Linked DNA regions of Homo sapiens. The protein of the gene in region 2 interacts with the protein of the main gene of each other region in a pairwise test. Each region holds a gene or a part of one and is shown on either strand. Other genes may lie near its edges.

Region 1 (3,500 bases), on a different chromosome or scaffold from region 2:
TACAATGTATGTTACTATGTTACAATGTATGTTACCATGTTACAATGTATGTTACTATGTTACAATGTATGTTACTATGGCCTGTGTTATTGTGTGAAGTGGCCTCTGAAGTTTTTATTTTTATTGAGTTTTTATGTTTTTCAAATAAATCCCTTTTCAAATGCAAATAAATGTTTTTTGTTTTGTTTTGTTTTTGAGACAGAGTCTTGCTCTGTCGCCCAGGCTGGAGTGCAGTGGTGCTTCTCGGCTCACTGCAAGCTCCGCCTCCCGGGTTCATGCCATTCTCCTGCCTCAGCCTCCCGAGGAGCTGGGACTACAGGCGCCAGCCACCACACCCGCCTAATTTTTTGTATTTTTAGTAGAAACAGGGTTTCACTATGTTGGCCAGGCTGGTCTCAAACTCCTGACCTGGTGATCCGCCTGCCTTGGCCTCCCAAAGTGCTGGGATTACAGGTGTGAGCCACCGCGCCCAGACTAAATGTCTTCTAAAGAATCTTTTAAATCATTTTTTTCCTGAATTCGGTTTTTGGAATTTTGACCTTTTGGGATTTCCACACTCAGGATGATGGCACTTGGGATTGTGTCTTTTGGGATTCAATCAGCTCCTGCTACAGAGAGCCCAGTCCAGCAGACCCCTCCTCGGCCCTGATCGCCAGTCAGGCACGAAACTGAGGACCCCCTCCCCAACTCAGAAGCAGGGCCCTGGGCGGGGTACGGCAAGACCCCACAGGCCTCCCGACACAGGGGAGAGAGGGCAGGAGGAGCCTCTGGGACAGCAACGGTGCCCCCACAGGCCCTGGTGGCGGCATCGTGCCCAGCCCTGAACCATCCCCACAGTCACTCCCGAGACCAGACAGATGTGGGCACCATCTGCCGCGTGGGATTCTGGGTGGCAGGTGAGGACAGGGCAGGGGCTGTAAGTCACAAGACACCGCCCCCGCCAAGAGAGGGGAGCCCGAATGTCCACGGATAAGGAGGATGCAGGCCAGCCACGGTTATTTTTAGGAGAGGCCACATAAAATGTAAGCTTCCGGGACAAGCCCAGGACATGGCAAGGTCCACGGGCCCGGGCCGGGTCCATCCGACACCGCGGGCACCGCACCAGCCCATGCACACGCTCGCCTCCAACCTGGGGCTGCACTTGCTCATAGACGCACACGTACCCCTCCACGCACATGCCTGCCGCACACGCTGGCAGCCCCAAGGTGGGCATCCGGCCCTCCCCCAGTGCTAGGACCAGCCCTACTCTCTGCTGCAGGGAACCCCCGCACAGTTCCCGGGGGTTACCACCCCAGCATCTCTAAGTCCGCCTCTCCTGCCCCTCGACAGCCAACCCTGCAATCAAACATGGGTGCCCAGCCCAGGCCAGCCCAGGGACGGAAGTGAGTTCCACCAGCTGGACACTCACAAGGAATGTCCCCTCTGTTGACACAACACACAGCCCAGGCCCAGCCTGCATCAGCATCAGATGCCCCAGGGCCTACCCCAAGGCTGGTCCAAGGGTGGGAAGGGCACCTGGAATGCCCCCGGTTCCCCAGGAGGCTGATCCCTGACAGTGGAGAAGCCTCCAAGGGGCAGGCAGCTCCAGCTAAGGTCCCACAGCCCCCATCTCTTCGCTCCTGGCCTGTCTCTGCTCGACGCACACTGTCCCCCAACACCTTGGCCCTCGGTCCCGCTCTTCGTGGGGGCCTACCCTCCTGTGCGTCTCAGGACCCCGGCCCTGACACAGCCGGGCATCCAGCTGGCCCCCTACAGACCTGCACGGACTGAGTCCCTCCCTCAGTGCTGGCTGGGCAGCAGCAGGGGGCTGCTGGGCTCAGGCTTGCCAAGGAGGAAACGGGCAGGTCCATGGCCAGGGCGGCCGGGCGTCGCGGATGCATGCCGGCCACGGGTATTTCTAGACAAGACTTGCAGGGCCGCCCGTCACAGAAGGAAAAATAAAACAGTCTGACGCGCTAGTTCAGGCTCCAGCAGCAGCCAAGCATCTCGCCAGACCCCGCGGCAGAGAGCAGGGCGGGGCCCAGCCTCCAGAGCCAGGGTCCGAGCAGGGTCCGTCCTCCCCGTCATTCATCCCTGGGGCCAGGAGCTGCTTTCAGGGACACCTGCCTCTGGGCCACAGAGATTCCAGGCAGCTTCCCAGGGAGAGAAGGTGCCTGAGCCTGGCGGTGTGCTGGTCAGTGTCTGCACCCAGCTCCCTGGGAAGGAAAGCGGGGCGTGTGCCGGCTCCTGCCGCAAGTGCTCTCACCTCGGCCCATTTCAGGGTGGAAGCTGCTGGTGCTCAGCCCTGCACAGGGTCACGGGAAGTGAAGCAGCAGGCCACCTGCTCACTGCGCACAGACCTGAGGCCTTGTGTCCAGGACCTGCCCACTGCCCCGAGCCTGGCTCCCACAGGCCAGCTGGCCAGGGCTGCCCGACACCAGGTACAAACCACCAAAAAATACCTCCAATGGGCACTCGCTTGAGGGGCTCAGAAGAGCTGGGCAGGACCTGGAAAGGCTCCTGACATCTTTCGCCACAGAAAGGCAGACAAGACCACCATGGGCAGCCCCCACATGCTCACGAGCCCGGGCGTTATAAAAACAGCAGCCAGCACTGGCGGGAGGGGAAGCCATGGAGGCGTTCGTCCATGGGGATGGGGGCAAAATGGCACCACCTCCTGGAAGCTCCCTGGACAGTGCCCCACAGTCACACACCAGCACCCCTGATCCCTGGGGCCGCTATACACACAGCGAAAACCTCAGGGCCCAAAGAGGACAAGGCCACAGGACCCTGCTTATGAGACAGACGTCCAGGCCAGGGGCCCAGAGACCGAGACAGATCGGTGGCTGCCAGGGCTGGGGGCAGGGGATGGGGAGTGATGCCCTCGGGCATGGGGCTTCTGTCAGGGGCAGGGATGCTCCACAGCTAGCCGTGCCATGGCTGCACTCTTGGGAATGCAGGAAAGCCCCAGCTGCTCATTTGACACAGGTGGGTCCTTGGTATGTGAGTTACCTCTCAGTAAAGGGGCCCTCACTCCAGCGTCCACGATAGCAGCCCACGGGACAGCCCACAACTGAGCATCATTCACAGAGAGCGAGCGAGATCCCCAACATGGGGCAGCTGGGAGGGCGCCGGCGGCCTGCGAGTGACCGGCCAGGTAGCAGTCCTGGGGGCAGTGGCGGGGACTCTCGGGGGCTGGGCGTGCTGCCGCGCGGGTAAATCCAATGCGGGGAAGCCCCGGACCCGCACCCCGGAGGTCAGAGCGCACTTGTGTGTGCCGTGGTCACTAGGAAGCCACACGCCTTTTTCGCAGGGGGTTCGAGGAAATTCCACGTGGGCCTCACAGCGGAGCCCAAACCCTAAGCAAGCCCCACCGGCTGCAGAATCCGCAGGACCAAGTACCAAGGGAACCCAAGGCCCCTTGTTCAGAGTCACTAAGAATTCCCAGAAGCAGAGCAGAAGGGAAGCCAGAGGGGCCCCACCGAGCACCAGGGCCTCGTCGGAGGATCCTCACACCGAGG
Region 2 (3,500 bases):
TAGTCCAGGATAGGAACCGCTGGACTCCTTCACCTGGGACAAAATTAAGCAGATCTCTCTTTCCACTGAAGCCCCGCATATAGTGTCCACGGGCTCCAGGTCTAGAGCTGCTGACCAGGCACAGTTCTCTGCCACAAATAACACGCACAGAGGCAAATACGAATTTCACCCAGGAATTGTGCTCAAACATTACAAACCTGCAACACAGGGGAGAGCAGAGAAAGAGCTGCAAAATAAGGGAAGGGTTTTTTATTTTGGTGAAAATTTAACTAGCAAATTATATAATATTCCAGGAGATGCCAAATCAATTATTCCAAAACTCAGTTTGTTCCAGTTGATGGTATTTTGTAGTTGAGCCTATTTTTTCATCACAGGGTAACACTTCTTTCTTAATTTTGTGGTTTCTAAGGTTGAAAAAACTATATAAAAAAGTATCTGTACCAAGACACATAAATGGTGACACAGACCTACATTTAACACACTCACAAAAACACTCACGCATATACACATTCACTGAAATAATTGGTCTTAAACACAGTAAATCACTACCTTTACTGAGTTACAAAAAATGCACTGTAAATTTGTTTGGTAGCAATATCAGAATTGTCTCAAGAATAGAAAGGTAAATCTACAGTTACAGCATGGAAGAATTTGTATCTGACAAGCAGGATGTAAACTACAGTATACCACCAAATTACTGGGACTTAAATATATATCAAGAAGGAATCAAAGCACCCGCTATACAAGATACATAGAGTAATGCATTTGTTAATGGTGCTTAATGCAGAGACTTAGTACCTATAAGGCATTTTTGAGTAGAATGATTAATTTAAATTCATTGCTTAAATAAAGGCTAGCGAGACGCATGTTTATAATTTTGTATAATTCACAAAATGGGTATTTCTGCAGCTCTCTCTTTCCCCCAGTGTTGCAGGCCGACACATCAAAAGAAAAATGATCAAGATTGTGAATGCCAACATAAAGAGCAAAAGCTATACTTTTCAAAGTATAATGACCCCTAGTAATTACTCAATTGTGTAAATAATACTATGTATAAACCAATACAGTTTCAATATTTATTAAAAATGGGTGTTCTAGACTCATGACTCATGAACACCAAAATCAAAGTAATGAGCTGAAGCAGTAGCAGCACGGTAAGAACATCTCATCAATGCTCTCTTTTTTTTTCTTTTGGCTGTCCCGGCATAGGGGATTCAAAAATGCTGTGTTTACAGCCCTGGTTCTTTTGTAGTTTAATTCTTCCATAAAGAGGTCACAGGATATGAAGAACATAAAAGTTTCTGGTGAGACTCATAATGCCATCAATGTCCCCCACTCTGAATGTCTGAGCAAGTCTTCTCTTTTTGTTCCATTTGTCCCTTTCGGAGCTTTGTTGCTTTCAAAGTTTAAGCAATCTGGAAACACTCTGAAGAGCTTATAGGAAATATAGAATTATAACCTAATTTTCTACCATCTAGTTTGTTCTAAGTGGCTATCTCTTTATAAACAACGGACTGGTGGGATATCATCCGGATTTACTGGCTGCTTTTATTAATTGTAAAAGTAGACATTACTGGTATAAATTGAATAAAAAAATTAAAAGATGGTGATGAAATTTGCTACTGATAACTAAGGACAGGTTGAAAATGCATTAACAAAAAAGCAATAAAAATAGCTGACAATTTCTTAAGGGCAAGGGAATCTTGTTCTTGCCATTTCTTGATAAGTGGCATTTTGATTTTATTCTTTTCAAAATATCCCCAGCTACAACAGTAAATTATTTTATTTTATTTTCTACTCAAACAATAAGCTTTTATTATATTTTACAGATCAGTCATCCAGGACATGCTGCGTCTGTGGTTGGCATCGTCTCATTTCTGAAAGGACTGAATGCACATAAAAGTCTCTTGCCCACGCTGAACTCACACATGCCGGGCAGAAAAGAGCTCTCACTAAGTGTAACTTGAGTGTGAACTTGCTCAGGCAACAGCAATGCCATTCAACAGTAAATATTTTAAATGTTAGTAAGATAATTTGAAGTTCTTTATGTAGCTGTAACAGCTTTGGAACTGAAGTTGAGAGGAGATAAGAATGTTTTAATTTCACTTAAGAAAGTTAATATGGTATTGATACAGGAGCTAGAAATAAATTATGTAGGCACATAGTGAGGGTAAAGGAGTCCGTGGCAAGGCTTCCCTTTTAACAAAAAGCAGCCTCCAAACCATTTCTTTTCTAACAAAGAGCAACCTGAAAAATTGAGCTGCAAACATAAATAAGCAAGCTGGAAGCTTGCACAGGTGAATGCCAGCAGCTGTGCCAATAGAAAAGTACTACCTGGGCTGGGCACAATGGCTCACGCCTGTAATCCCAGCACTTTGGGAGGCCAAGGCGGACAGATCACCCAAGGTCGGGAGTTAGAGACCAGCCTGACCAACATGGCAAAACCCCGCCTCTACTAAAAATACAAAAATTAGGTAGGCATGGTGGCAGGCGCCTATAATCCCAGGTACTTGGGAGGCTGAGGCAGGGGAATCACTTGAACCTGGGAGGTGGAGGTTGCAGTGAGCTGAAATTGCACCATTGCACTCTAGCCTGGGAGACTAGAGCAAAACTGTCTCAAAAAAAAAAAAAAAGAAAAAGAAAAGGGCTACCTGGGGCCAAGCATGTTCAATATGTTCCATCTTCCCTTTTCTTTGTCACCATGTGTAAAGAAATGGGCAACATGGCGCTGGCCAGGTAGAGAACCCATCTGCATAATAAAAGATTAGGGTGGGGGTGGCCAGATTCTTGAATGCTCTGCAAATTGCACACCTAGGCCTAATCAGTTTTTCGTGTGCTATGCAAATGGCACATCTGGTCCAACCAATCTTTCATGCCCTATGTAAATCAGACACTGCCTCCTCAAGTTCATCCATAAAGCCTCCTGCACTTCACCATGGACTAGAAAGCTGTTTGGGACCCCTCTTTTTGCAGGAGAGAGCTTTTCTCTTTCTTTCACCTATTAAGTCTCCACTCCTAACCTCACTCCTTGTGTGTCCTCGTCCTTGATTTCCTTGGTATGAGACAATGAAACTCAAGTATTACGCCAGACGAGCAATGCTGCTTCAGTAGGACTGAGCGGCACGCCTCTCTTTTATACCTAAAATCTCACCATTAGTAATTCACTTCTATGGTTTAAGCCTTTTTCAGGTGTCTGCTAACTAAAATTCAAATCCACCCAGGAGTGACAGCTCATTAAAATGCAAACATTTTATAATAATTTGATTAAATCAGCTATATGATAATCAAAGAAAAAATTACAGTAACTTCAGTGAGAAAGAGTCAGCGTGGAGATCTCAGTTCAATCCAAATAATTATTGAGTACCTGCCAGGTTCTATGCAGGGTGCTGCACACTGGAGATTCAAAAATGAATAAGCCACAGTCCTTCACCTCACAGGAAGGGTTCAAGAAGAGGGGAAAGGGGTTAATACTAAAAGAGAAAAGATGAAAGAAACTGGAG

What was found. Proteins that work in one complex are often made in the same cells at the same time.
Region 1: the proteins of PPM1K (region 2) and AATK interact in a two-hybrid assay, tested with the Homo sapiens proteins (one study listed by BioGRID and IntAct).

What each region holds. Positions count from the first base shown.
Region 1 is NC_000017.11:81,156,222-81,159,721, forward strand, and holds part of AATK (serine/threonine-protein kinase LMTK1), read right to left. Parts: intron 1-3,500. UniProt on the Homo sapiens protein: May be involved in neuronal differentiation.
Region 2 is NC_000004.12:88,271,062-88,274,561, forward strand, and holds part of PPM1K (protein phosphatase Mn(2+)-dependent 1K), read right to left. Parts: intron 3,394-3,500; coding exon of another isoform or gene 3,365-3,393; intron 227-3,364; coding exon of another isoform or gene 34-226; intron 1-33. UniProt on the Homo sapiens protein: Serine/threonine-protein phosphatase component of macronutrients metabolism.